Regions from separate parts of the Homo sapiens genome. Here region 1 is linked to region 2. The links come from fine-mapping of genetic effects on gene expression. A gene starts in region 2. The other region holds a variant in brackets. All regions are shown on one strand. Distances are from middle to middle.

What was found.
Region 1: its variant is fine-mapped to the expression of SAV1 in whole blood (TOPMed, PIP 0.91).

The regions. Positions count from the first base shown.
Region 1 is chr14:50,711,210-50,726,946 of GRCh38, reverse strand. NIN (ninein) reads left to right here. Exons shown (of 31, transcript NM_020921.4): 30 at 881-994; 31 at 3,275-7,184. The coding sequence ends at 3,484. Among named protein-coding and RNA genes, the nearest start is that of SAV1, 51 kb to the right of the region's middle. The variant C/G (reference allele first, on the strand shown) is at 7,580.
Region 2 is chr14:50,659,966-50,675,702 of GRCh38, reverse strand. SAV1 (salvador family WW domain containing protein 1) reads left to right here and starts at 7,397. Exons shown (of 5, transcript NM_021818.4): 1 at 7,397-7,829; 2 at 10,084-10,524. The coding sequence starts at 7,736. RefSeq lists silencers at 7,160-7,729, 7,840-7,969 and an enhancer at 8,330-8,399.

The DNA.
Region 1 (15,737 bases), 51 kb before region 2:
TACTACTTAGTATCTAAACAGATGGTAGCCTTTGACTCATGTTTAGTCATTCTGCATGTCTTTTAAAGTATATCTTAACTACCATCAGCTGTTAATACCTTTATGAAATCTGAAATTCCTTATGGGGACATTTTGGTGGACTGCAGAGGGATGGGGGTTGCATTCTAATAAGTCAATTGCATTCTAATCTCTCTAGGTCTCTCTCCTCTCCAAAACTCACTTACTCCTTAACCCATCACCGTTGTGTGAGAACAGGAGATTTTTCATTTTCAATCTGCTCTGATAGTAAACCCATCCTCCAATCCAGATGTGTGCTTCACATTTACAAGTGGGAAACAGATGACTAGAAAAATTGGCAGGAAGAGGCTATTATGAAGAAAGAAACTTACCACCCTCACAGTCATCAGCCACTTCAAAGGAAAAACAGACATGCATATTGCAAGCTGATTGGTTATGTTAGGAAACCCTGAATATATTCAGTGCTTGTTTTGTTGTTGAGAGGCCCATAACATTGCAGAGACCCAGATCACAGATGGGAGGTTGATAGCGATCTTCCAAGTTACCTTGGATGTCCATTTTACTAGAGGTACTCACAGGTATTAAATTATGGGTTTTCAGAATTTTGCTTTATATCAGGGGGATGATGGTAACACAGGTAAGATTCTTTTGATTTTTCAGTCTGATCCTTTATCTGATAGGGTTACTTTTCTGACATATGCAATCCATGCAGGGCTCAAAACTCTCATTTCATGAGAAATCCATCCTTCCTGTTACAAAGGCAAAACATTTGCTGTCCTTTCTCTAGGCATCTTGTGGGGAAAATAAACCAGTGTTTTCAGTGTGACATGATTTTCGAATAATATACTTTTCTTCCCTTCAGGGAAACCAGGAACAACTGGTAACTGTCATGGAGGAACGAATGATAGAAGTTGAACAGAAACTGAAACTAGTGAAAAGGCTTCTTCAAGAGAAAGTGAATCAGCTCAAAGAACAAGTGAGCCTACCCGGTCATCTCTGTTCACCCACCTCACATTCCAGCTTTAACTCCAGTTTTACATCCCTTTATTGCCATTAACTCGTTAACTTATGTTGTCTAATAAAGGCAAATTCTATTATAAATGTCTGTAAGAACTTAGGATTTGCTATCCCTCATATCACCCCAAAAAATACGAACTCTGTATTTTTTCCAAAGCTCTGTTTAAGGCATGTTTGTCCACAATTTAAAAGTGTAAATCTTTGCTAACATGATTTACATGGACCTAAGATTTTAAAGATCAAAAAAAATCTATTGATTCACATAGACCTAAAGCATGTCCATTCACATGCTTTAGGTCCCTGTGAATCAACAGATTTTTCTCTGCCCAAGACAGGAAATATTCCTATTTAAATTGAAAAATGATATTGGTTAAAAAAATAGGGGGATAATAAATGGAACTTTAGCTTTCCTGTTCCCAACAGCTTATGAAAACCTCAACAAGTATCTTATTGCTACAGCTAGACTCCAAAAAGATGTACTTTGAGTTAGAATCTAGACCCCAGATTCCAGGACCACTTAAACAGCCTGCTCCTTTTCACCTGCTGGTGGCAGATGTGGCCTTGGTGTTTAGAAATTAGTTGCGCATCCACTGAAGAGACAAGCAGAAAGTACTACCCTCTGGGAGAGTGTTATAGCCTCTCTGGAAACTGAGATGAACATGTGGGGTGGGGGGCAGAAAATGCCCAACCTAGTTCTTTAGATACTTAAAAGCTAAGAATAACAACCCCAAGAGAGGGTCTGAATTCAGCTGTAGACAGCAACTTTTGGTTGTCCTGTTTCTTAATACACAGGGAAGAAAAAGTCCCATTCAGTGAGCATTTATCCATTCAGTTCTTTACATATTCAAGCATTCAACACATAGTTACTGTGGGCCAGGTCCTGCCGTGGGCACAGGGATACAACAGTGAACAAAGCCCCTGCCCATATAGAATGCACTTACAAGGTGCCAAGCGTTTGGCCAAATGGTAGGTTCAGAAATAAGTGGGATCCGTCCTGTTTTCAGTAGAGGAGAACACAAGAGAAAGACATATTTGATCCAACCCAGGAGTTTAAAGAAAGCTTCCTGAAGACCTCTGAAGCTGCATCTTGAGAGTTAAGATTTCAACTAGTTAAGAAAGTGTGGGGAAGGGTATCCTAGGCTGTGGGAACATCATGGAGTTATGACCACATGTGGGGTGTGGACACGTATAAACACTTCAGCATTGCCAGTTCACACTGTCCTGGGAGAAGCAGGAGGAGAGACTAGAGAGGAAGGGGGAACAGGACAGTAGGCCTCCAGTGCTGAGCCAAGAAAGAAGCTTGATTTTTATTCTGTCGGCAATGAAGAACCATCAAAGTGTTTTTTTAAGGAAAGGAAGAGAGGGAGGGAGGAAAAAAAGTTGTATTCAGGAAGTTCAACAGAAAATATGTTCTGAAATGTTATGTGATGTCTGCCAGTCATCTAGGTTCTGAGCTTGAGAGTGCTGTCATCCTTATCCCTGCCCTTTGAAATGCTAATAGGTTGTTAAGCTACTCTTTAGTTACTCTTTATTCTCATAAACCTTTATACTTTTAGATGCCCTACTTGAAATTGGGTGTAAAATGAACACTTGTAACATGGGAAGGGGGACTGGAAAATATTAACCAGAACAACAATGAAAGTATCCCAAGGCTGCTAACAAGTTTTCCCACCCCAACCTAGACCATATATTCTAACTATAAAGATTAGACTAGACAAGGCCCCATGCAAAACAAAACAAAAACAAAGACAATTCAGGAGAAGTAACTGCCCAAATCTTATCTCTGTTATAATACATGAGCTAAATTTTAAAATAATCAGTGGGTTGTAGTTACGAATGGTAAGTTCAAGTATCTGTTGTTACAAGCAGAGTTAAACAGTCCACACCTGACACCTCAGGAATTTAAGTTATAAAAGTATTTGATATTTTTAAAGAATAAATACAGAAATAATGCCTATTTAGGTAGAAAAAAAACTTTTGGTGCCATCTAATATCAATCTGTTCTATTAGTAACTGACATAAACATCTCATGCAAAGAAATAGCTTAGAAAAAGTAGATTTGTTCCAATGGTGTCCCTGATGCCAAGTCTGATGTTAAAGCTATTTTGTAAAATAAAAGAATATAATTAGACGAAGTGATTTGCCTTTATAAAACAACTGTCCTTATGTCAGACCTTAAACTGAAGGTTTAAGAAGAGTTACAGAAATGGAGTCAAGATGTTTCTGGTTCTGTTTCTAGCTCTGCAAGAACACTAAGGCAGACGCAATGGTGAAGGACTTGTATGTTGAAAATGCCCAGTTGTTGAAAGCTCTGGAAGTGACTGAACAGCGACAGAAAACAGCAGAGAAGAAAAATTACCTCCTGGAGGAGAAGATTGCCAGCCTCAGTAATATAGTTAGGAATCTGACACCAGCGCCATTGACTTCTACACCTCCTTTGAGGTCATAGCCAAACCAAAGGGTACACTCATATTTGTGCACTTTACTGAAATAGATGAACATTTCAGTAGGTTCTCAACTTAAAATTAAGCCTAACCTAAAACTGCCAGCAACACAACTGGAGTTTCCATTTATCATAATTAGTTTTTCTAAATAGACCCTTATGGGAGTTTGAAAATAAATACTCACATATTTCACTACTTAAATTATTCCCAAGATTTGAATTTATTTTAAAATTTTAATAGCCACCAAGAATGTGGACATATGAAAATTCAAGAACCTAAAAAATACCAGTTTTGAATGAGTTTTTGTGGTTTTGGTTTTTTTTTTAATTATTACAAATCTATGTGTAAAATCTAGATATTTGAAGTTTGAGATCTGATGAGAATGGTTGTTATAAACTTTATTTTAAAACCAAATTTAGGTGTTCTTACATATTTAAATACTGGAAAGTCATTATAATAGTTTTGGTTCTTTGAATTGGTAGACAATTAGTAGAGTATAATTGGTTAGGAGGCAGGGCTTATTAAGTGGTTATTAACCGCTGACATCAGACAAACCCAAATCTGTAGAATTCTAACCTTCTAACACCTGTGACAGTATTACCACTCTTCTTGTATTATAGATTTAGAACTGATTTACTCAATTGCACTCTTAACTAATGTTAAAAGCTTACTTGCTTTAAACAGCCTTTTCTTCTTTCTCTTAAAAGTTTCATTTGGGGAGCTGGTCTTCTAAGAAACGGATAAAGCCACATAATTAAAGCAGTTGAACTATAGGGAAAGCACTGAACAAACCACTTTGGAGTAAATAGCTACTCTTAGAAAAGAGGGATAAGCAGACCATGTAGGTTTTCTGTCTCTCAAATCTTAGAGTTCATAAATTTACTTGAGGTTGCCTCAAGAACTCAGGGAACAATACTGTAAACTGTCTTCCTGAACTACTGTAGGGCCTCTCTAAGAATTTGAAATGTATAAACCATGTGACCTCATTTATTTGTCTTATATATTTACAGCCATACTAGAATTTTTATTTCTACGTTTTTAGTAAATTTAATATTCTGGGGGAAAAAAGGCCTTGATTTTAGGGTTAAAAACCTGACTTATAGAAGAGTTTATTTAATATAGGTCAAAATTTTCTGTGTTTCTTATTCCTTCTATACCTCAAATCTGATTCTAAGAATTTCTTACTGTGATAATCATTGGCATGCCACCTGAGGTCAAGGAGTGCCAAATAGGACTTTCCACTCATGCTCAAGATCAAAACTTTATAGAACAGTCAACATTTTAGATTCGGTAACCTTTTTTTTCTTCCAATTATAATCTCTGCTAGCCACTTCCGCCAGCAGTTGGTGGAAGACTTACTAGGTGCAGGGCACTTTCCAAGTTCATCACAACAACCTGCTTGTTTTCATGAGACAATAATCCGAAAAGTTCGCTTTGATATATTCCTGGAGGGCCAAGCCCATCTATTTACAAAAGGTGAACAGCAAAATCAAGCACTGCTTTATGGGCAGGAACACAAGAGAAAGCAAACTGCCCAAGAAGTCATCATGTCAGAAACTCAATCTCAACAAAATAATTTCCATCAGGGAACTTCAGGGTTTCTTGGGGGCTTATGAGTCTCACCGGTCAACCCAGGAGGCCTCACTACAAGAGCCTTGACAAGGCACTGTTTTTTGTGGGACTGGGAGTTCACACTGATGAAGCAAACCTTTGAATTTTTGCACAGCTCTTGTCAGAAAGCCCTGAGTTCCCCCTGGATAAAGAGTTAATTTTAATCCTTCCCTATAATTATACTTCAAAATATTTGACATCTGCTATTATGCCTTCTTTAGATCTTTCTTCTGTGGTGCAGACATTTCTAGTAAGTGTTTGACTACTTGTATGGCATTAGCTTTCACAGAAAATTGTTTCACTTAAAACTGTGGATTGGCCTAGGCTAAGGACAAAAATAAACTAAGTACCTGTAGTGTATTTATGTGATATGTGTCAAGTTACTCAAAGTTATTGCTGTTGGAACTGAACAATAATATTTCCCAGATAGCTGGCCTTAGCATGTGATCACGGTTGTTGTATTTTTAATTTTTGTCTTTTACAGTATGAGAGGTGTAGGTTAATTTGTTTATTTCCTATAAATTTGTATTTATGTGTATATAAAATGTACAATGAATGTAAATATGACTTTCTGGAAAGTTTAGACTACATTTAGAATCTCTATTCAAAATCAAAATGCTGCTCAAATGAATTTAACCAACATCTAGGTGCTTAATTTCTCATTTTATCCCACTTATGAGATTGGGAAAAAGATCAATATGAGAAATACCATACAGATACCTTAAATGTATGCATTTGTGCAACAATTTTTGAGAAGGTGAGTGGCAATTTATAATTTAGTTGGCAATTTATAATAGAACTTATAGCTTTTAAAAGACCTTTTAAAGACATTAAATGTAAACTTAAAAATGTTTAGATCTTGTTTCAAACTTTACAATAGCATTCTTCAAAATATTAAGTTATATATTTTATAGGCATTTAGTTGCTTATTAAAAGCACTGATTTTCAAACTTTTTGATTTAAGAACAATTATTTAAGATCGTCTCAGAAGATGGGATCTTCGTTTCAAGAAAAGGGAATCAAGTTTGCCTTTGAGATAATACGTTACACTAAGAAAAGGAAAATGTGGATAGTAAAACCCACCTCTCTCATCCTATTGTACTCTCTTCTGCTTTTTAGAAGCCTGCACTTAAGCTTAGATTTGTGAAGGGAGAGTAGAAGGGGAGAAGTAGAACCACAGTGTTTTATTTATTTTTCTAAAACTCTTACTAAATCCAGATTTTTTAAACTGTTTTAAATGTGAATTCTTCCCAGAAATTTCAATGCATTGCATATTTAGCCTTCGGCATATTTTTCATGAATAGATCATGAAGTCATAGGCTTCCAAGGCATAGGAAGAGATCTTGCAGGTCTAGTATTTTAATAATGCACTATTACCCAGGGCAGATATTATGAGAAACTGTTTCTTCTCTAAGGGTTTATGGCAGACTTTGCTTTTTTAACATGTGAGAAATGAATTTTTTATTTTGTGATTTATGTGATTTCTTTTGCTGAGTGAAGGAAAGGAGAAATTGTTGCTATTGTCAGCATCTTAAAGGTATTTCCAGTCAAGGCAAGGCTAAGTGCTTTGTGATAGTATTAAGCAAGTCATGTTTTGAATGGATTACCTGTAGTGACTCATTGGAATGATATAATTATACAAGTAATGCCAAAAACCAAGTCAAAGCCTAATTAACCAAAGCACTCATTTAAAAATCATCATGTTTGGACCTATCTGGACCTCTCAGCACTGTAAAATAGTTTTGGTTTTGTGGCATATGAATAGCTGTTTAACAAATCAAAGTTAGCTTTTTGCTTCTCAGCTTTTTTGGGCAATACAAGTTAAGTTCTTAATGGGGAGACATTATCATGGCATGACTTAAGGGAACATTGGTTTGTGAAGGAAAAACAGATTATCTAAAGCCATCTCTATGTTTCTGTTCAGATAAAGATTAATGAGTTCTGTGTTTATATCAGCTTTGTATATTTCATCTTAGCCATTCTATCCTAGAAAGATTTTAATGTGAGCTTAAGATGTAAATAAATAATTTTGCAAACATGCCTTTTGTTTTCTATATACCCTGACCTTTTAATAAAGTTTCAGTGTATTTATCATTGGTCTTTAGAATGGTAGCATCAAAATATTTCACTAAACACATTCTACAAATGCAGAATCTCAGCCCGCACTCCAGACCTACTAAATCAGAATCTTCATTTTAAAGAGATTCCCCAAGTGATTTGTATAGGATTTAGAGCATTGGGACTCCATTTCTATTATAGAAGGATGACTTTTACACCAGCCAGTTTGGGGTCCCCGTATACTGTGGCAGTGCATAGTTTACCTGCAGAATCATGACTTAACCTTGGGCAAGGCCCTGTTTGTGATTTTGGGTGCTTCAAAGATGGCTTTATTTCATGTTGCCATCTTTAGGGGTGGCTCAGACTTTCTTAATTGAGCAGCTCATGAATGATGAGATATATGCAGTTGGAAACACAAAAACAACCTAAAA[C/G]CATGTTAATATGCTGAACACTGAAATGTAGAATTGGAAATGTTGGCCAAACTGACCCATCTCACAAGCCTGTTTTATTTCATTTCAAAGCTTTTATACCAACCTCATACTGCCTTTATGTGGCAGGAACTACCATTATTCCCATTTTATGGATGAGAAAATGGAAGCTTAGCAAACTCAAGGCCACACTGCCAGCTAGGTCGGGAACTTGGGACTAGAGGCTCAGGTTTGTCCTGTGTTGCAACACTTCTATCAGTTCCTACTTCTGGCAGAACTATCAGTGTTGGTTCAATGGCAACCATGTACACTGCACTCTGAAGAAAGTACTGTGTAAAACATTCCTGCCATCTGTTTGTGGTGGAGTGGTAAGATTTACACAGAAAAGAAGATTAGAAAATCTACATCCATACAGAAGATAATCAAATGTTGATGGACTCTGTGCTATGAGCACCAAAATAAGATTAGTGTCAAATGGGTAAGGTCCTTAACCTAGCATTCAATATAATTCTGCACTTCATTGAGATTTGTGCAGCCTGTGTGTTTTGTAGTCTTATTTACTGTGCAAAATTATAAGAAGTAATTTTCTAACATGTACTTGATGTCCATTTTCCCCATAATAATAGTTATGTTTTGGCCATAAGACTGGAATTCTCACTTAAATTATGTGAAATGTCTATTATATAATCTCCTGATCAAAAGGTTAAATTTCACCCAGAAGTGCTTTCTATTCTTTGGTTGCTTCACTTGCAAATCAGGAGACATGGCTAGTTTTGACAGACTTTTTTAAAAATTCCATATAAAGTTAAAATTCCAAAGCAGAGAACTGTATAACTAAATCAGTGAAATGTTGTAATGAGTAGGCAACAATGTAAAATAGAGCTGGATACCCTTGTATTAAAATAGTATTTAATTCTGAAAAATGATTACATGGGATATGCTTTACTAGTTAAGGCAAAGTAGACAGCTCTTAACAGTGCTTACAGCCCAGATGAACATTTACCAATCATTTTTCTTTCCTGTTTGGAGGCATATCTGTCTTCAAGATCAAGCAATAAATAAGTACTAACCCTGTGCCAGGTACTAACAGGTTATCTAGTATTTTAATACTGTGAACAATAAAAGGGACTCTTTAAAAAGTGTCAATGTCAAAAAAAAAAAAAGACGTGGCCGTGTTCCAAATTAAAGGAGTCTAAGTAGACATGATAACTAAATGCAGTACCTAATCCTACACTAGATTCTGTGTTGGAGAAGAAAATGTAAAGCAGGTGGTCCCCAGCCTCCTGGGCATTAGGAACCAGGCCACACAGCAGGAGGTGAGCAGCAGGTGACCCAAGCAAAACTTCATCTGTATTTACAGCCATTCCCCGTATTCCCATTAGTGCATGAGCTCTGCCTCCTGTCTTATCAGCCGTGGCATTAGATTCTCATAGGAGCGCAAACCTTATTGTGAACTGCACATGCAAGGGATCTAGGTTACGCACTCCTTAGGAGAATCTAATTAATGCCTGATGATCTGTCACTGTCTCCCATAACCCCCAGATGGGACCGTCTAGTTGCAGGAAAACAAGCTCAGGGCTCCCTCTAAGTCTACATTATGGTGAATTATATAATTATTTCATTATATATTACAATGTAATAATAGAAATAAGATACACAATAAACATAATGCGTTTGAATCATCCCAAAACCATCCGTCCCCTTTCAACCCCGGTCCATGGGAAATTGTCTTCCACAAAACCAGACCCTGGTGCCAAAGAGTTTGGGGGCCACTGCTATAAAGGACATTGAAGTTACTGACAAAATTGGAATAAGGATAGTAGCTTAGAAAACAGTATTATATCAATATTAAATATACTGAAGTTAGTTACTGCATTTATGTAAAAGTATCTTCTACAAAAGTATACACTGGTGTATTTAGGAATAGAGACTATGATATATGCAACTTAAAAAAAAATTGAGACGGAGTCTTGCTCTGTCACCCAGGCTGGAGTGCAGTGGTGCAATCTTGGCTCACTGCAACCTGCGCCTCCCAGGTTCATGCCATTCTCCTGCCTCAGCCTCCCGAGTAGCTGGGACTACAGGCACCCGCCACCACGCCCGGCTATTTTTTTGTATTTTTAGTAGAGACGGGGTTTCACTGTGTTAGCCAGGATGGTGTCGATCTCCTGACCTCGTGATCCACCTGCCTCAGCCTCCCAAAGTGCTGGGATTATAGGCATGAGCCACCATGCCCGACTGATATATGCAACTTATTCTTAAATGATCCAGAAACAAAATTACCCAGGCATGTGCATACACGTGTGAGGGAGAATGTGAGAGAGTGAGAGAAATAAGGCAATGAAGCAAGGATTATTTGTATTATCATTGTAACCCTATTTGTAAGTTTGAAATGATTTCCAGTTAAAATGTTTGAAGTGTTATGGATAAAAAAATGTACTAAGTGTGGTGTCAAGCACCTTAATCTTCCTTGCCCTTCTAGCTACTCTGAAGAATAGATGGTATTCTGAGTAAAAACTCACTAGAAACCATTTATGCTAGCCTAACCATACACCTATAGTTTATTATGAAAAGTTCAGCACTGGCCAGGCACAGTGGCTCACGCCTGTAATCTCAGCACTTTGGGAGGCAGAGGCAGGTGGATCACAAGGTTAGGAGATTTGAGACCATCCTGACTAACACGGTGAAACCCCGTCTCTACTAAAAATACAAAAATCAGCCGGGCATGGTGGCGCGCGCCTGTAATCCCAGCTACTCAGGAGGCTGAGTCAGGAGAATCGCTTGAACCCGGGAGGCGGAGGTGGCAGTGAGCCAAGATCGCACCATTGCACTCCAGCTTGGGTGACAGAATGAGACTCCTTCTCAAAAAAAAAAAAAAAAAAAAAGTACCATATTCAGTGCTGTCTAGTGACAAGTGTGGTCACTCATCTTAGCACTATTTCTCATATCATTCCTTCTTTTGTCCTTGCCCTCTCCCCACCCCTTTGTCCTGATTCCTATGTATTCTCCAGATACTACATGTAAATTTAACAGTGTCCATGCAAGTCACAGTGGGTATAAGCAAGAACCAGAGGTGGATGTGGGCAGATGGTTGATGTGTATGAAAACTGGTAGGGTCAGTGTTTGGGAGTAAAGGCTTTTTTGAAGTGGAGATGCTAAAGTAGATTTGTTGGAAATATTTTTTCTTAAATGATGGTCAAAAAGCAGGATATTTAAAATAAGCAATTCTGAGGTAGTTCACATAATGGTGAAGTGGGTAAAAGAAAAAGATCACAAGACATTAGAAAAAAATCAATGATCTGAAAGTCCAAGATTTGGAATTGCCTTTCCCTGACCCCGCCCCCATCATTTCATCAAATCTGTACTTGCCAAGGTTACCATGAACCTCTTAAAGTTGCCCCACTCCAACCTGCTCTCCCCACACAGCCTCCAAATAGGATTCTTCTAAAATAAGACTGAATGTCACACTACTGTTTAAGAACACCCCATGTCCTCAAGTCTCCATTCTTTTTTAAATCGACAAATAAAAATTGTACATATATATCTTATGCAATGTTTTGAAATACATATACATGGCTGGGCACGGTGGCTCACACCTGTAATCCCAGCACTTTGGGAGGCTGAGGCGGGCGGATCACGAGGTCACGAGATCAAGACCATTCTGGCTAACATGGCGAAACCCCATCTCTACTAAAAATACAAAAAAAAAAAATGAGCGGGGCATGGTGGCAGGCACCTGTAGTCCCAGCTACTCAGGAGGCTGAGGCACAAGAATGGCGTGAACCCGGGAGGCGGAGCTTGCAATGAGCCGAGATCGCACCACTGCACTCCAGCCTGGGCAACAGAGCAAGAGTCCATCTCAAAAAAAAAAAAAAAGAAAAAGAAAAGAAATACATATACATTGTGAAATAGCTAAATTGAGCTAATTAACATATATAACCTCACATTCTTATCACTTTTGTGGTGAGAATACTTAAGATTTTAAATTCTTAAGAATACCTTCTGATTAATTCATAAAGTAATAATTAGTGAATTTAGCCATACTAAACTCTGTTTGGCTTCTCAAAGGGCAACAGTATCTCTTGCTATGTTGTCTATGTATTGAGTAGGAGGAAAAGGCAGGACAAATAGTTGCTTCCAGTTAACCATCCTCCCCTTCCTCCTTAAAAAAAAGAAGGCTGAAATTTGACCATGCATGTTATTACCCAGCTATAAGACTATATTCTCTAGCCTCTTTTGCAGCTAGATGTGACCATGTGACTAGGTTTTGGCCACTGATATGCAGGAGGTCTGGGAAGACTTCTTAAAAGAGGGGATAAGCTGGCATGATGGCATAATCCTATAGTCCCAGCTACTAGGGAGACTGAGGCAGGAATGTCACTTAAGCCCAGGAGTGTGAGACCAGCCTGGGCAGTATAGTGAGATCTTGTCTCTAAAAATTTTTTTTTTTTTTAAATTTAGCCAGACACAGTGCCTGCAGTCCTAGCTACTCAGGAAGCTAAGGTGGGAGGATCCCTTAAGCTCAGGAGTTTGAGGCTGCAGTAGCTATGATTACTACACTGCACTCCTGCCTGGGCAACAGAGCAAGACCCCATCTCCAAAAATAAAGAGGGGGAATACACCTGTTTTTGTTCCTACTGCCTAGAGTGAAGATGATGATTGAAGATCTAGCAACTATGTTGGACCATAAAGATGAGGGCCACCTCCTATAGATGGCAGTGTAGAGAGCTGGAAAGAGCCTAGATCTCTGACAAATTCATTTAGCTATCATGTGAGGCCTCAATTCCTTCTGGACTTTACGAAAAAGGAATAAACTTTTAGTTGTTTAAGTAACTATTATTTTGGATTTTCTTATTATATGCAGCCAAACCTTATCCTAATTGAGACCTAGAATTAGTTGGATATCGGGGAAGGATAAAGTGGTCTTGATTTTCCAGCCTGACCCTAGAGAAGATACAAGATGTATGCAATTCTAGAAAAGATGAAGTCCAAGAAAGGTAGAGTTTAGTTCTACGGTTGGTTTCCTGAAGAGAACAGGGCAATTTTCACGTTTAAACGTGATACATCCACCTGGGGAAAGAAAAAGTGGTAGAATCTTGCGGGGGAGAGAAAGCAGCAGCAGTAGCCTGCAGTGGTGGAAGCTAATTAAATGCAGCAATTTTATTTTTATATTGATGCCCAGGGTGACAGCCCTTGGATTCCACTTTTCAAGCAGTACTAAATTGGCTGTACTTTGACCCTGAAATAAGACTGCGCTTGTCTTCATTGACCAGAGATAACTGGAGAAGTAAACATGTGGTATTGGGGAGAAGAAACTGACATTACTGCTCCTAAGATTTCCAATAGGTGTCTGAAAATGGGGGCTTTAGAAAAGAAGCCACGAGGTTTTTGCCCACAGAACAGTATGATCTGGACATAGGCACAAAGAGTTTTCTACAGATGTTCCCATCTACTTAGGAATAGCGATTCACAGTGGAACCTATAAGAGGAACCCCCAAACAAGTAGTAGACAACAAATGAGTACACCTTTGAAGATTTCCTTTGAAAAGATTATTTAAGCTTCTTTATACTTTCTAGAAGTACAAAGTACAAAATTAACTACAGGGTTTTTATTCCACTCCCTTCCCCTAGTTAGACATCTTTTCTCCACCTTAGCCCACAAGGTGATCACTTCACTGGCTGGTAAATTGTCCATTGCAATCTGTAAATGAGCCAAGATTGCTGTGTGCTTTGCTCAGGCCATTCCTCTCATGGCTATGATACCACTGACAGGGAGATATATAATATATATGTAGAGAGAATATATACATTTGTATATTACAGTATAATATATACATTTCCATATTATATATTTGTATATAATATACAAATTCAAGCCTCATTACTACTGATTTTCCAACAGATCAATCCCAAGCAGTAGGCTATAATTAGAAACAGATTAGACATTCCTTGTTGCAGTCATCTACCTACCTCCTGGCCACCTCCCTCACTGATTTTAGAACTTGGGTCACTGTCTTTTTCTCACTACTACCTCTATCACTACTCTTAGTGCTTTCAATATCTCATATTTGATATATTTGAATTGTGGAGAGAAAGATGAGACCACACTCTACCTTGTCAATAATTTCACTATCTCTGGTCTTTATTTCAAGCATCCAAGACTTTGGACATCCATCTTTCTTCTTCTTCACTTCTAAAATTTGTTTCCTCTATCCATTGATCCCACCACTTTTCCACTGTCCACCACTAAGCCTTACATCTACCTCATGTCCTCATGATCTCTTTACTCAGCTTATGTTCCATGATCTATCACTAGAGCCACTTCCCCTGAAACACAATCACTTTGCTTGCCCCTATCTACCTTTATGACATTTACCTATGGCAATCCCAACTTCCCAACCCTGGTTAAACTAAACTCTTTTCCTATTCTGCAATTACACCAAAGCAACTGAAAATGGCCAGAGAAAGACAGTCAGCTGCTCCAACTGGCCTCACTTTAAATTCATAATCACTGATTTCAACATTGCTTAACAATTCCATTACTTTACAAAAAAAAAAAAAAAAAAAAAAAAGAGACAGGATTTCATAGTCACCCAGACTGGAGTGCAACGCAACAATGTTAGCTCACTACAGCCTCAAACTCCTGGGCTCAAGGGATTTTCTTGCCTCAGCCTCCCCAGTAGCTGGGATTACAGATATGCACCATGACGCCCAGCTTTTAGAAAGTTTCTCACTATTGGCTGGGCATAATAGCTCACCCGTGTAATCCCAGCACTTTGGGAGGCCGAGGCAGGCAGATCACAAGGTCAGGAGTTTGAGACCAGCCTGGCCAATATGGTGAAGCCCCGTCTCTAATAAAAATACTAAAATTTTTAGTGTGGTGTGGTGGCACACGCCTGTAGTCTCAGCTATTTTGGGAGGCTGAGGCAGGAGAATCACTTGAACCTGGGAGGCAGAGGTTGCAGTGAGCAGAGATCGTGCCACTGAGTCCAGCCTGGGCAACAGAGCGAGACTCCATCTCAAAAAGAAAAAAAAAGTTAGCTGGGTGTGGTGGCGGGCGCCTGTAATCCCAGCTACACAGGAGGCTGAGGCAGAAGAACTGCTTGAAACCAGGAGGCAGAGGTTGCAGTGAGCCAAGATCACGCCAGTGCACTTCAGCTTGGGCAAAAGAGCAAGACTCCGTCAGAAAAGAAAAGAAAAAAGAGAAAAGAAAAAAAGAGAAAAGAAAAAAGGAAAGCTTCTCACTATCCAAGATAATGGTTTCATATGTCCTACTCAAATCTCCAATACCTCCAATTCGTCTTTACTCTCAGTAAGTTGATTCTCATAAGAGAACTACTCATTTAACCACCACCAACTCTACCCACTTCCTGCATCTCTTAATAATTTGTAATTAATAAACTGCCCTTGCTCCCTAGGCCAAACGCCTTTGTGAACTAGATCCTGTCCCTTCTCACTTTCTCAGGATGTTTTCTTACAATTAGTATCTTACATTATTAGCTTTCCTTTCTCCATTGTTCCCAGTAGTAACTCTCGTTTTCTTCAGAGTGCTTCAAAGGTCCCTAGCAGAAGTTGAGCAATTTCACTCGTGAGTTCTATTGTCTTGAAATTTGTCTTGGACAGGACAGGACCAGCTATCTATTAAAATGTCTTCATTAATTATATTTCAGGATCCCACACCATTCTACTTTTTCCCCCCGGTACAAAAAAAAAATCATTTCTTGACAAAGAATATACAAGCAAAATAGGAAGAGAAGTTCTTCATGTGTAAACATGACATCATTTACAGTGTATCTATTTCTTATCTTCAGGTGGCTATTTCTCATACTTTTTCCTAGAGGTGGTCTTGCTCTGTTACCCAGGCTGGAATGCAGTGGCACAATCATAGCTTACTGCAGCTTCAAACTCCTGGGCTCAAGCAATCCTCCCACCTCAGCCTCCCAAGTAGCTGGGACTACAGGCATGTGCCACCATGCTTGGCTAATTTTTTTTTTTTTTTTTTTTTTTTTTTTGTAGAGATGCAGCCTCACCGTGTTGTCCAGGCTGGTCTCAAACTCCTGGCCTCAAACATCAGATCATAAATTTAAGAAGTTCTCTAGCTGTCTGTAGCATTTTTGCAAGTCAGCTCATTTTTGGCGAAAATGGCAAGAGGATTGGGGGT
Region 2 (15,737 bases):
GAAGTGAGTCTGCCATATACTTCTCAATTTTCTCTGTTAACTCTTTCTGGAACTTAAGTTTTCAGGATATTGGGCCTTTTGTATAAAGCCTATTTCTCTTTTCTGTTCTTTGAGATTTCCCATCTCAGTCTTTTTGTTCTGTTTTCTGGGAGATTTGCTCAACTTTATCTTCCTAACTTTGTTCTGAAAATTCTACTTTGGCAACCCCTATCTTTAATTTCCAACAGCTCTTTATTGTTCTGATCTGTTTCTTTTTCATAGCTTCCTATTGTTTTATGAGTGCAATATCTTCTTGCAAATCATCCTGTTGATAGTAATAAGCATTGTTGCTTAAAGTACTCATTTATACTCTGAATTACCTGTTTTATTTGTAGTCTATTTTTCTGTTTATGTTGCTATCACTCATGTTGCAAGTTTTCCTGAAATTTCTGGTGATCCTTGATTGCATACTTATATTTTAGAATGATACATTAAAAAAGCAAACACAGGCATGATGGCTCATGCCTCTAATAATCCCAGCACTTTGGGAAGTTGAGGTGGGAGGATCGCTTGAGCCCAGCAGTTTGGCACCAGCCTGGGCAACATGGTGATATCTGGTCTCTACAAAAATGGAAAGATTAGCCAGGTGTGGTGGCATGCACCTGTAGTCCCAGCTACTTGGGAGGCTGAGATAGGACGATGGATTGAGCCCGGGAGGTTGAAGTCGAGATTGCAGTGAGCCGTGATTGTGCCACTGCACTCCAGCATGGGTGACAGAGTGAGACCCTGTCTCAAAAACAAAAACAAAACAAAACAAAAAAGCAAACACTTGTGAGTGTGCTATTTGAGGGATCAGGGCCTACTACCCGGACGCTGCTCTATGAGATTTAGTTCTTTGGTTTGTAGGATATACAAATGTCAGAATGCTAAAATTTTTATCATAGGGCCATTTAATTTATCCAAAAACAGAACCTGAATATCCCTTTTCAAGGGAATAGGTGCCTAACACCTGAAATTCTATGGGGGTGTACGTCTAACTTTCAATTAATGGCTCTTCTCGGCTCCACGTTAGTGTCCTATCTTCCTTAATTAAACCAGGTGCACGTGATCCCAAGCCTCGCCTCGGCCTTTGGCAATATGTGCTTCCATGAGCATCTTAGGCTGTGAACTAAAATACTTCATCCTGCTTCATTGTCTCTTGATCTCCTCCCACCTCTTGCAACCCTATCACTCTTCATCTTCTAGACATTTATTAATGTCACATCTACTGATCTGATGGCCTATTTTGTGTTCTCATAATAATTATAAGTTTATTCTCTCTATATTCTTTCACTGTCAATTAACTGGGGTTCCAGGAGGGAGAGGAGATATATTTATGTGGCCAGTCTCCACATGGAATGGGACATTTCCATTTTTTTCTTAATTTTTTACATTCTGGCTCTACTGAAGAAGTTCTGTTTAAACTTCTTCCTTGAAACTATTTCAAATAGATGTATTAAATTCAATTTTTAACACAATCTACCTGATAGGATCCCATAGATTGAGGGCTTAGTCCCACAAGATTGCCCCACTTCAGATGCCAATCGCAAGCCCCACATTGTGACCTGTGTTTCTGACCCATCAGCTATAAATTGGTGTTCCCACAACTCCCTTCTTGGGTTTTATTAATTTATTAGAGCAGCTCACAGAACTCAGGGAAAAACTGTGTTTACCAGTTTACTAAAAAGAATAGAATAAAGGATACCTGTGAACATCGAGATGGAAGGGACACATAGGGAGAGGTATGGGAAAAGGGGCATGGAGCTTCCATGCCCTCCCTAGGAATGGCAGCTTCCAGGAACCTGTGTGTTTAGCCATCCAGAAACTCTCAAAAGCCAGTCATTTGTGGTTTTATGGAAGCTCCATTATGTAGAAATGACTTAATACATCATTGGCTATTGGTGGTCAACTTAACCTTCAGCCCCTCTCCCGTCCCAGAAGGTTGGTGGTGGGGCTGAAAGTCCCCACCCTCTAATCCTACTTTGGTCTTTCTTGGGTGACCAGCCCTTATTCTGAAGCTATCTAGCCACCAGTCATCTCATTAGCATACAAAAGACACTCTTCTGGAGATTACAAGGGTTTAAGAACTCTATGTCAGGAAACAGATGAAGACCAAATATATATTTCACAACATCACGAAGCCAAGTAAAAACTGATAATTGCAAAGAATAGTTTAAAAATAAAGTTGAAAGTGGCTGAAGATACGGCCCAATTCTGGAAGCAAAATAAAAGTTTCTAGGGTCAGAGAAGTCAAGATACAGAAAGAACCAGAAGGACAGACAACTGAAGTCCGAGGCCAGTGCTGCCAAAAATAGAAGACTCATTTTGGCTTTCTGTCAAGGTTTCAGAGGACCTCTAAGTCTAGGCAATAACAGTACATAAGAACAAAAGCTAAGCTCAGAGACACCGAATCTCCCAGCTTGACTCCTTTTGATTAGAATTGTGATACTAAGCTGGGCGCAGTGGCTCACGCCTGTAATCCCAGCACTTTGGGAGGCCAAAGCGGGTGGATCACGAGGTCAGGAGATCGAGACCATCTTGGCTAACATGGTGAAACACCGTCTCTACTAAAAATACAAAAAAAAAAAAAATTTGCTGGGCACAGTGGCGGGCGCCTGTAGTCCCAGCTACTCGGGAGGCTGAGGTAGGAGAATGGCGTGAACCCGGAAGGCGGAGCTTGCAGTAAACCGAGATCGCGCCACTGCACTCCAGCCTGGGCGAAAGAGCGAGACTCCGTCTCAAAAAAAAAAAAAAAAAAAGAATTGTGATACTAATTCTTTATGTTACTGGGGGGATGATTCATCTTACATAACAGGAGTTTAGGAACCCTACTAAATTGCTAATATTAAGCAATTATATAATATCTTCAGATCTGTGTAGACATTACACACCCTTATCCTTCATAGGAAACAACCAAAGTTTCTGCCTAAAGGACACTTAGGAATTTACCCTCCCATATTTTATTTTTTATTTTTTTGAGACAGAGTCTCACTCTGTTGCTCAGGCTGGAGTGCAGTGGTGCGATCTCAGCCCACTGCAACCTCTGCCTCCCTAGTTCAAGCGATTCTCCTGCCTCAGCCTCCAGAGTAGCTGGGATTACAGGCACACATCACCACACCCCGGTAATTTTTGTATTTTTAGTAGAGATGGGGTTTCACCATGTTGGCCAGGCTGGTCTCAAACTCCTGACCTCAGGTGATCCACCCGCCTTGGCCTCCCAAAGTGCTGGGATTATAGACGCAGGCCATCTCGCCCAGCCCCCTCCCATATTTTAATAGCAAAATTTTGGAGACTTGAAGAGCTATAATTGGCATAATTATTACATCTTCCTGAGACAGATTAAGTTTATCTTGTTATGTGAAGAAGAAGAGTGAGCTGGAGAGTAGACTAGAAGTTCCTCTCCTTTTTTCCTTTTTTTTTTTTTTTTTCTGAGGCGCCATATGTAGGGCTTATTTCCATTTTGGTTGTCTTTCTTGGATAATCTTTCACTGAATAGTTCACCCTTTAAAATTTTACATGCTTCCAACGAGGAAGTCAACATAGCATAAAGACCTTAGCTGTCTTTGAAAGTAACAATCTGGCACGAAATTTTATTTTTATGCTAATCATGATTTTATATAATGCTGATATTTTAATATTTTCTTTAATACTTGAATAAAGAACAAACTTTTTAAAGAAAGAAAATCACCAACATTTCTCTTATCCTATGAAGGTAAGTTTTTATTTTTGCATATTCCCTTCTGCCTACATGGCAGAAAACTCCAGGACTGAAAGACACTTTAGAAATCAAAGGGTTTGGCCGGGCACAGTGGCTCACGCCGGTAATCCCAGCACTTTGGGAGGCCAAGGTGGGTGGATCACGAGGTCAGGAGATCGAGACCATCCTGGCTAACACGGTGAAACCCCGTCTCCACTAAAACTACAAAAAATCAGCCGAGTGTGGTGGCAGGCGCCTGTAGTCCCAGCTACTAGGGAGGCTGAGGCAGGAGAATGGCCTGAACCCGGGAAGCGGAGCTTGCAGTGAGCCGAGATCATGCCACTGCACTCCAGCCTGGGCGACAGAGCAAGACTTTGTCTCAAAAAAAAAAAAAAAAAAAAAACAAATGGTTCACTTTCTTCATTTTCAGATGAGACAACTAAGAACTCAGAATGCTATGAGGTTAGCCCAGGGTCATACCTTATAGGCTCCACTAAAATAAATTTTAATACTAAATTAATTTTTTAAAAAAGTTGTTAAAACATGAGAAGCTCCCTAATTGCCAGTTTTCTCCACTAAGAATGTAACTGTAAGGGGAAAAAAAAAATCTCTATTATGGAATGCAGTATTAGCATTATTGAAGGCAATGTCTGGAGAATTACAGCTCCGTAGAACTACAGCAAATCTGAATTCCTTAATAAAAATTCTCAGAAGTCAAGGAATTTCTAGAAAACAAACATGAATTCAAAGCTTTTAGATTTAAGGATTCAAATTCAAAGTTCACATATTTGTTGTGCATTGCTATAGCTAATGCTGCCTGCACATTGTTGATTCTGGAATGTACCCTCCTTGATAAAAAGGCAAATTAGTTGTCTTAAATAGAGCACCTAATTAAGGCTTTCTCTCTGCTATAATCCACAGAAATTAAATAGCATTGTAAAAGGGAGTACTCTCTAAGGAACACAGACGGCTTTCAAAACAACTGTTAGAAACAGTCTGGACTCACATTAGTGGGATTCTGAATGTTCCGTAGCAGTAAAGAGCCCCAAACGGAAATTGAGGCTGGCCTGGTGGCTCACGCCTACAATTGCAGCACTTTGGGAGGCCGAGGCGGGCAGATCACTTGAGGCCAGGAGTTCGGGACCAGCCTGGCCAACATGATGAAATCCAGTCTCTACTAAAAATACAAAAAATAGCCAGGTGTGGTGGCGGGCGCTTGTAATCCTAGCTAGTCAGGAGGCCAAGGTAGGAGGATCGCTTGAACCTGAGAGGCAGCAGTTGCAGTGAGCTGAGATAGTGCTACTGCACTCCTGCCTGAGGGATAGAGCAAGACTCTGCCTCAGGGGGGAAAAAAAGGGAATTGAAAACTCCAGTTCTGATGCTATTCTGTCATTAACCAGGAATGTAATCTGAGACAAAACACTTAATTTTTCTCGTTCCTTTTTGATGTTGATGAGGTGAGCCTAGGCAATCTCAGAATTCTTTTTCAACTATAAAATTCTAGGATTCTTTCCTCCGCACATGTGAAAGGTGTCCCCGTACTTCAGGCTCTGGGAAAACTCCAGGTGTGAAGAGTTGCCTTTATTAACAAGATGCTAATATCCTTTTGTCCTTCTCTGAGGTAAGCCTTAGGCAGAAACCTGGCACTTCTTTGGCTCCCCCTTCCTCCTTCAGCTCCCGCCTTCATACCCTGATGTGTAACAAAACCCCATTGTGCTCTCACTTAAGTTTCATCACTCTTTCTTCTCCCTGCACACTATCAACGCTTTAGGACTCGTCCTTATTTCTGAACCACAGGAACAAGTAACTGTTTTTCTAATGTTTCTCTCAGAGTACACTCTGCTTCTAGTGAGTTCCAATTCTGTTTATTAAGATTTTCATACCCATGGCAGTGATTGATACTCCCACACTCCATATTCAATGTCAGCAAATTTGGTTGGCTTTCTTTAAAATATGTCTAAAATATGTCCACTTACCTCTCCACCTATTATTGCCTGGGTCCAAGCCAGCAATAACTTCTGACTGATCTCCCTTTTGCCCTTAGCTCCATTGTCTACTCTCCACACAGCATCCAAAGCAGTCCTATGAAAACATTAACTCAGATCATGTCACTCCTCTGCTCAAAGTAACATTCCTTACAATGGCCTACAAAGCCCTAGGTGCCGTGGCTATTGTTACTCTCTAACTGCATTCCCCATTCGTCTCCCCGTCTTTTCCAGTACATAAACCCTCTTACTGTTCCTCCAATCTGCCAGGAACATGGCCACTTGCAGCGACTTTGCACTTGCTGTTCTTTCTGCCTGGAATATTGTTCCTCCAGTTAGCTGCATGGCCAATTTCCTCACTCTGTCACTTAACTCCAATGTCACCTCCTCATGAGCCTTCTCTGGTCCCTCTATTACCCTCTCAAAAATTGTGAGTCCTCTCTTATTTTCACTTCATCACTTATCACTATCTAACATAGTATGTTTTGCTTATTTTTTGTCATTTTTTTCTCTTTCCCATGACAGTAGGGATTTTTGTCTGTTTTGCTTATTGCTCTATCACAAACGACTAGCGCAGTGGGTAATGAGTATTTCCTGGTTAATGAATGAATTGTGGGAGATCTGCACCAAGGGAACATATGGAGACAGACACTAGATCAAATGTCTCCTTTGTTTGCTCATGGTAAAACATTTGACCATCTTCTTAATCTTACGTGGTAAAAAATTCCATGTCTTTTGTTAATTGTGATATATGTCTTAGATCTCTTGTGAGATGTTTTAGATCTCAGGGAAAGCATTCCTCATTATTAAAGCATTAATTTGGTCACTAGGGGATGAATCCAATCTTATTTTCCAAATGTTATCCTGTACATTTGGCAGTCTTGCTAAGTTATATAGAAGGAAGTAGAGTCTATTATTTTAGATAGAAAATTCCCGGTCCCGACTCGCAGTGGTCAAAGTCTTCAAAATTCTAAGATCATAACACATAACGTCAGGAGGAAATATGTGGCTATTAATCATACTAATGATAGTGATGATGCAATAAAATAATTGTAATATGCTAACACCAATTGTATCTTAAAAAGAGGTACTGGAAATTCCATCTTGCATTCTTCCGTTTTTTCCTGTTATAGAAAAACGCACTCCCTGATACTCAGTAGAGGATCAACTTATTTCTAGTTAATCAGCATGAACGTTTCCAGCAGAATAGATGCTTTGGTGTAGCACTTGCCTGGGAGTCATGGTTAGCATTCCGCATTTTTTAGAGAGCTGAATTCAGCAGCCTAGGAAACATTAGGAAGAACACCTTCAAACAGGGAACAACGTCTTGGGGGGAAAGAGAGTCACTGCCTCCGCTAGGGATCCCGAGGGGGTACAAAAGCAACAACAATAAAAACTCGTGGAGAGTAGGTTCCACGACATGCGCATGCGACGAACTCCCGCACTCAGCGGGGCAGGTTTCGTCCTTCATCTTCTCAGTCGGCAGGACCTGCTTCTCGCTGAGGATGAGTGAGGACAGCCGCAGCTCGGCGGGGACGGCCCGGTAGCCTAGAGCGCCGGCACCCGAGTCCCGCCGCCGGAGCCGCGCCTGGAGCCGCGGTGGGGGAGGGGCAGCGGCGGCCCGCGCTGCGTCGAGCTTCCCAGAATTCCCAGCGGCCGCGGGGAAAGTTTACGGGATGTAGGCGGCGGCGGCGGTAGTGGTAGCGGTTATTCGGCGGCCCGCGGCGGACCATGGCCCTGGCCCTGGCCCGGCGTCGCTGGGCTTTCCTCACGGCGTCCCCGAGCAGCGTCGCAGAGCGGGCCGACTTCCGGGAAGGAACTGACCAGCGACTGAGCGGCGGCCGGCGCGCTTAGCGCCCTGAACATGCGGCAGTCCCTGCGGGCGACCCCGGGCTCCGGACAGGCGGCGGCGGAGGCGGCGGCTCGGGAGGGAAGGAGGCGGCGGCGCCGGCGGAGGTGGCGGCGGAGACGGCCGGCGCCCGGCGCGGAGCCCTAGGGAGGCAGTTCAGCGCGGCCTCGGGCCTCGTCGAGAAGGATGCTGTCCCGAAAGAAAACCAAAAACGAAGTGTCCAAGCCGGCCGAGGTGCAGGGGAAGTACGTGAAGAAGGAGACGTCGCCTCTGCTTCGGAGTGAGTGTCAGGCGGGGCGTGCCCACACCTGGCCCAGGCGGCCAGGTGCTCCGGGGACCCTGGCGGGGGCGCCGGCGGGTCTCCAGGGCTTCTCCTTCGTCCTTGGTCGCGTGAAATACTGGTTTTGAGATTTTCTTGTGTCTGAAGTGGTATTCGTTGATTGAAAGCCCATAAGAGTAAGAAACTTGGGTTAGTCCCCCCCGCGCCTAACCCCCCCAAGAGCACCCCCTAAAAATAACAGACTTCCTCGCCCCACCAGGCAGAGTTGTTGGTTTTGATTACTGGAAGAGAGAGTAGGAAACATTTAAATTGCTTATCACCTAATGCTATAGGAGTAAAAGTAATTAGACAGGGACACTTTTTACTCTTTTAGATGCGTCGAGATGTGCGTCATGTTTGCAAACATTGCGGGTGTCTCTCGACTGTGCTGCAAGTTGTGCGAACTCTGGGGCAGAATTCCTTAGTCCTGCTGCCGGATGCAGACTTGAGAAGGTGAAAAGCATACCGTCGTTCTTGTAGCCGCCACCCAAAGCCTCATCACTCTTACACAGCAGAGCAGAGAGCCAAAAGCCTTTGTATTTGGCTATATTCGTGAGATTCCAAGAAGGCAACTCAAAATAATTTCTATCGTATTAGAGAACCCCCCCCTCGAAAAGTTTTTTTTTTTAATAGGGTAGATCCCACTCCCAATCCCCACCTCCGGTCCCCCGCTGCTTTTCTTCTTAATGTAAGTATTTGATTTTTGAGTTGAATCTCTTGAATTTTTAATTCTTGTGTGTTCAGGACATTTGTGAGGCATGGAGCTGGTATTTTGGTGCTCTTACTGCGCCCTGGGCCCTTTGCTTAAGTTTCCTTCTTGGAAGCTGGTAGTAACCTTGTGACTTAAGTATTACCTCATATTGTAATTGGGAAAGTTAGGTTTCTAGTATTTGCCCAAGATCACACAGATGGGAGAGCATGTTTTTCCATCATAACCACATTGTCAGCCTTCCAGATTTATGGTGGTACTTGCAATACTTTCAACAAAATATATGTCAGTTGAGTACATCAGTAACTCGAAACTTGATTTTTAAGTTGTTTTTTTTTTTTTTTAACAACTTGATTTTCAGTCACACATGCAGTTAGGTTTCTGGCTGTTTTTAAGTGATAGCTTGCTGTTTGCTGCAAATAAAGTTTATCAGACATTACTTGAAATCGTGAATTATGTTTGTCACACTTTTTATTATACTTTAAGTTCTGGGGTACATGTGTAGAACGTGCAGTTTTGTTAATGTTTGTCACAGTTAAGCAAATAACTTTTGATCTACTTTGTTTTGTTGTCGTTACATCAAGTGTTGAGCCTTATTTATTCAGATATTTGTTTCTGTCCAGTGTTAGTTTCTGAAGCTTATTAATATGAGTGTCTCCAATATTGTTTACTTGATGAATAATAAGAGGGTCTGCATATTCAGGTTTTTGTCTTGTTTTAAAGGTATTTGCTTTCTAACTGGGAATGTCTTAAGCTGTTTTCAAGTTTCGTGTTTAAAAGTACTGTATCCTAAAAGCTGTTGTTCTATTATCTACTATTTTGAATTATAATTACATAGTTTCAGGCTTGGTTTTTTGAGCCACTTCTACATTTGTGTGCTTCTTTGAAATGAGAGCTTTTTATTTTCAATTTTCATACATAAATTTTTGGCTTTCTAGCTTTTGATTACTGTGCTAGTGCTAGGTAATTCCAAGAGAAGAAAGAGCTACTAATTTTTTAATTTTTAAAGGAATCCACTTTTACATATTTGGGAGTAGCATTAAGTTCTATTTTTGAAATTGTGTTTGCTTCAAGAAGGATTTTTGGCAGTTTCTAAAATGAAGTGAGAACAACAAAATAAACTACTTAACTAGAAACTATCAATTTGTTATATTATTTCCTATTTTTATACATTAATTCATGAGCATTTCATTAATGTGTAGTTCATAGATAAGATTATTGATATTTTATCATATTATGTATGGTAGTATGCAGAATACATTTTATTCTAGCTGAGCTTTTACGCATAGTCCATTAATGCAAGTTATATAAATTCATTTGATTGGGAAAATATTAATCTTCCTCAATTTAAAATGCCCAAGTACCATCCTAAACCAAAATTTAAAATTGTGTTTTCTTAAGTTGACTGACATTTTGATTTTGGGGTGGTAGACATAAATGAACAAATTTCGAAAACTTTTGTTACTTAATGATGAAAGGGTAATTTTATCCTTTGTTTTATTGTAGATCTTATGCCTTCATTCATCCGGCATGGTCCAACAATTCCAAGACGAACTGATATCTGTCTTCCAGATTCAAGCCCTAATGCCTTTTCAACTTCTGGAGATGTAGTTTCAAGAAACCAGAGTTTCCTTAGAACTCCAATTCAAAGAACACCTCATGAAATAATGAGAAGAGAAAGCAACAGATTATCTGCACCTTCTTATCTTGCCAGAAGTCTAGCAGATGTCCCTAGAGAGTATGGTTCTTCTCAGTCATTTGTAACGGAAGTTAGTTTTGCTGTTGAAAATGGAGACTCTGGTTCCCGATATTATTATTCAGACAATTTTTTTGATGGTCAGAGAAAGCGGCCACTTGGAGATCGTGCACATGAAGACTACAGATATTATGAATACAACCATGATCTCTTCCAAAGAATGCCACAGAATCAGGGGAGGCATGCTTCAGGTAGCTTAACATTATAAATAATATAGTAGTTTATATTTATTGACATGTCAATTAAAAAGATGTTCTTTTCTAGATTTTCTTGGGACACGAACAAATACTACTAGCGAAATGTTTTTCCACTTTGCTCATCCTGCTTAAGCCTGTGTGCAAATAGTTGTTAATCTACACTGAATGGAAGAGTCCTTGTGACCATTTATTTTATTAACTCATGTTATGTAAACTTGGTATTTATCTCAAGGCTGTCTAGACTCTTAATGCTGTGACCCTTGAAAACCTAGAGAATTTAATGTCTCCAGTTGGGCTGAATTTAGGTTTAGGTTTGGTAGAATAATGGGAAGGGTAAGTCTTCAGAGACACTTGACGGAGTCCTCAGAGACACTTGACAAACTTGGGAAAGGAAAGAAGAGTAGGAACAACTGGGCATGCTCAGTGATACCCTGAGCAACCACATTACTTCGCTAGATCCTGCCCTTTTTCTCAACAAAAAGTAGTTCAAGAATTATTTCCTGAGTTGATCAAAAAGACTTATTGTCATATGGTTAATTATGTGTTGAGCATGTCTTTTTATTATTTTTGTAACAGACAAAAAAAATTACCATATAATTTAAGAAAAGAAGGTACTTTCCATATCTCCTGAGTTGGAGATACTTCTGAAAGGAGCAGAAGAGATGGGAGAAATGTACAATTCTACTTTATTCCTGAAGTCCTGGTTTTACCAGATAAAATGAAGTGAGATGAAAATTAAACTTTCTTGTCTGATTTTTTTTTTCTACCAAGTTATAGACTTTAAATTTTGGCAGGATAAAAATAAAATGTGAGACAGATTTACTTTTTGGCTCACATAACTTCAAATAAGGCGACTTAAAAATGGTTTGGAGCATTAGTATTTTGACTGTAGAAAAAATTTATTCATTTAATATTAACTGTTTATGTGTCTAGCGTTTTCCTTGGGTCTGTTGGTCTCTGCTTTCTGGTACCTTATTTGTCTAGTACCTTATTTGTGGAAACAAAACCAATCTATACACAATGGTCACAGAAAAATTGTTATACTTTGTGATACTAACTGTAAGTGCAACAGGGAATCAGAAGAGAGATGAGTATAGGCTGGAATACTTAAAGAGATGATTCATGGAAGAGGTAGGACTTGGAGTGGGCCTTGAGCTTGGCCTTTAGATTAACAAGGGCCAGAAGAAGGACATTTTACGTGGAAAATTGGGAATAGCACAATGAAAACAGAGTAGGCATGGTTTAAATATAAGGAACAGTGTAGTTCTGCCTGGTTTGAAGAAATAAGATGTAAGGTTGAGTGGAGATTTGTGGTTCAACAATAGGCTTAGATTTGAGTCAAGTGGAAGCTCTTGCACATTTCGGAAAGACAAGTGATTTTATGAAAGCAGTGTTTAAAGATTAGTTTTGTACTAGAATTAAGGGTAGATTCCTAGAGAAAAGAGGATTGCAGGTACCAGTGGGTACCAGTGGTAATAGGAAAACGCAAATCTAGGATGCTTTTAAAGGAAAAATGAGAATTAGAGTTTAGGAGAAAGCAGATCACTGAAGTTTTAAAAATAATGTGGAATAGTTGGTAAGAACAACTTATTTTATGAAAGCTGACATCAGAGTCTCACTGGAACATTGTAGAGGAGAGGTTTTCTAGGCATGTGGAAATGCAGTAAGAGGCATGGGTAAAAGCACCTTTTAGTTTTTAAGGAATTAGGTTAAAGAATTAGCTGCATGCTTGAGTGTTTATTTTGGTTATTTCTGATATGCAGTTCTGAACCTCAGGAATAATTTGTTATCTAACTAAAATAGTAAGTTTTAAAAATAAAGCTCATTTATATTTTCTTCTAGAATAATAACTGCTTATTACAGGAAATTTGCAAAATGCAGAAACGTAAAGGCAAAGTACCTGTCCACCAGAGATCCTCTTAGTATGTTATTTTCTTCATCTTTTTCCATGCCAAATTCTTTTTTTACATGGATGTGATTATATAATATTTTGTACAGTTTTCTGTTCTTTTTACTTGAATGATTTTCTTCATGTTGTATACTTTTTATGAGTGGTTTTAATGACTGCGTAATCTTCCATTTGGTGCATATTCAGTGGTTAATGAGGACTTGACCTATACTTCAGAAATTTGGAAAGAGGAGAAGTGGGACACGCCCACATTAATGGGACTTGGCCACTAACGGGGTTTGAAGGACAAAGGAGAGGGAAGAGTCAGATAGGATTAGCACAGCACATGACTGCCTAAGAGATGCTCACAAAAATAAATGGCTGAATGAGTGAATGAACCCAGCGGTTTTAAATCTGGAGGCTTAAGACAGTTTTTGGTAGCTGAGGGAGAACAGAAATAGCTATGTTTACTGTTAATATAGAATATGTGTTATTCTTTGCGTTCACCTTTCCCACCTATATTGTAGACGTCACTGATAGCTTGTAATACTTTTCTACCTGAGGTTTAAGTATGTAAATATGAGGAATTAATAACAAGTTAAACTCTTGTTTTGAAAATCTAATTTGCCAAATATAATTGAGGAAATACTATAAGAACTAAATCTCTACTGATCCTCTCTTAGGAGCAATTTGAGATAATTTTTCTAAGTTTAAAGACAGACTTTAAAGCAACTTTCCAGTCACAACTTCAAAATAAAGTACAAGTTAATTGCATACGTTTTCAGATTCAAGTATGTCATTAAAAAAATAAGATTTCAGGCTGGGCACGGTGGCTCACGCCTGTAATCCCAGCACTTTGGGAGGCCAAGGAGGGTGGATCACGAGGTCAGGAGATTGAGGCCATCCTGGCTAACACGGTGAAACCCTGTCTCTACTAAAAATAAAAAAATTAGCCGGGCGTGGTGGCAGGCGCCTGTAGTCCCAGCTACTTGGGAGGCTGAGGCAGGAGAATGGTGTGAACCCGGGAGGCGGAGCTTGCAGTGAGCTGAGATTGCGCCACTGCACTCCAGCCTGGGCAACAGAGTGAGACTCCGTCTCAAAATAAATAAATAAATAAATAAATAACAAGATTTCAAAACACTGATGAAAGAAATTGAAGAGCACAAAAACAAATGGAAAGACATCCCATGCTCATGGGTCAGAAGAATTAACATCATTAAAATGACCATGTTGCTCAAAGTAATCTACAGATTGAATGCAATCCCTATTAAAATACCAGTCATTTTTCACAGAAATAAAACAATCCTAAAATTTCCACAGAACCAACAAGGAGCCCAAATACCCAAAGTAATCCTGAGCAAACCGAACAAAGCTAGAAGCATCACACTACCTGTCTTCGAAATAAGGCTATAGTAACCACATACAAGGTTATAGTAACCACAAATAAGGCTATAGTAACCACAATAATATGGTATTGGTATAGAAAGACACATAGACCAATGGAACAAAAATAGGTAATGCAGAAATAAATCCACATATTTACAGCCAACTGATTTTTTTACAAAAGCACCAAGAACGTGCATTGGGAAAAGGACACTTTCTTCAATAAACGATGCTGGGAAAATTGGATATCCACATGCAGAAGAATGAAATCTGACCCTTGTCTCACCATATGCAAATTCAACTTGAGATGGATTAAAGACTTAAGACCTGAAATTATAAAAGTACTAGAAGAAAATGTAGGGGAAACACTTCAGGACATCGATCTAACAAAGATTTTATGGCTAAGACCTCAAAAGCACAGGCAACAAAAACAAATAGACATATGGGACTATATTAAACCAAAAGGCGTCTGCACAGTAAAGGAAACAACAGAATGAAGAGACAACATATTGAATAGGAGAAAGTGTTTGCAAAAGATTCATCCAGCAAGGGACTAATATCCAGAATATGCAAGGAAGCCAACAGTAAGAAAAACAACCCCATTAAAAAGTGGGCAAAGGACATGAATAGACGTTTCTCAAAAGAAGACATACAAATGGCCAAAAGGTATGTGAAAAAATGTGCAACATCACTAATCGTCAAGGAAATGTAAGTGAAAACCACAGTGAGGTGTCTTACCCCAGTCAGAATGGCTATTGTTAAAAAGACAAAAAAATATACTACTGGTGAGAGTGTGAAGAAAAGGCAACTGTTACAGACTGTTGGTGGGAATGTTACAATAATTAGGACAGGCACTATGAAAAACAGTTTGGAAATTTCTCAGAAAACCGAAAACAGAACTACCATATGATCCGGCAGTTCCACTGCTGGGTATCTATCTAAAGGAAAAGAAATCAGTATATCAAAGAAATACCTGCACTCCCATGTTTATCATGTCATTTGCAGCAGCTTGAATGGAACTGGAGGTCATTATATTAAGGGAAATCAGGCACAGAAAGAGAAGTGTCTCATGTTCTTACTCACATGTGGGAGCGAAACACATTGATTTCATGGAGATAGAATGATAGCAGAGGTTGGGAAGGATGGGAGGGGAGGTAAAGAGAGGTAGGTTAATGGGTCCAAACATAAAGTTAGATGGAATAAGTTCTAAGGTTTGATAGCAGAGTAGGGTAACTACAGTTAACATTTTGAAATAGCTAAAAGAGAGGACTTGAAATGTTCCCAACACATAGAAATGATAAATACTCACGGTGATGGATACCCTAAATACCCTGACTTGATTATTTCATACTCTTTGCATGTATCACAATATCACATGTACCCCATAAACATGTGCAAATAATTATGTATCCAAAAAATGCTATAAAACAATGTTACCACCTGACTGGGCTCTTGTCTGCTATCCGAATAGAGCAGAACACTGAGACAGCAGATACTGTAAAGAAGAAAGAGTTTAATTATTGCAAGGCAGCTGAGTAAGGAGGATGGGAAATGTTTCTCAGAGTCATCACCGCCAAGACTGGAGAAGCTAAGATATTTAAAGATGATTTGGCAGGCAGGGGGCTAGGGGATGGGTGCTGGTGATTGGACTGGTATGAGATCATAGGGTTATCAATGCTGTCTTCATGTGCTGAATCAGTTGCTGGGAAATTGGGGAGTCACAAGACCAAGTCAGTTCCTTGGTTGAGTTCATGGAACACTGGTCCATTTGGTGTCAGTTGGTCCACTTGTAAGCAAAGTCTGAAAAATATCTCGAAGACCAGTCTTAGGTTTTACAGTAGTGTTTGTGACTGCCAGTTACTATGGAAAGAAAGCTGGGAAAAAATGGCAGGTTACTGTTTAAACCTATAGCTTAGCAGAAGAGTTTGCAGGAGGT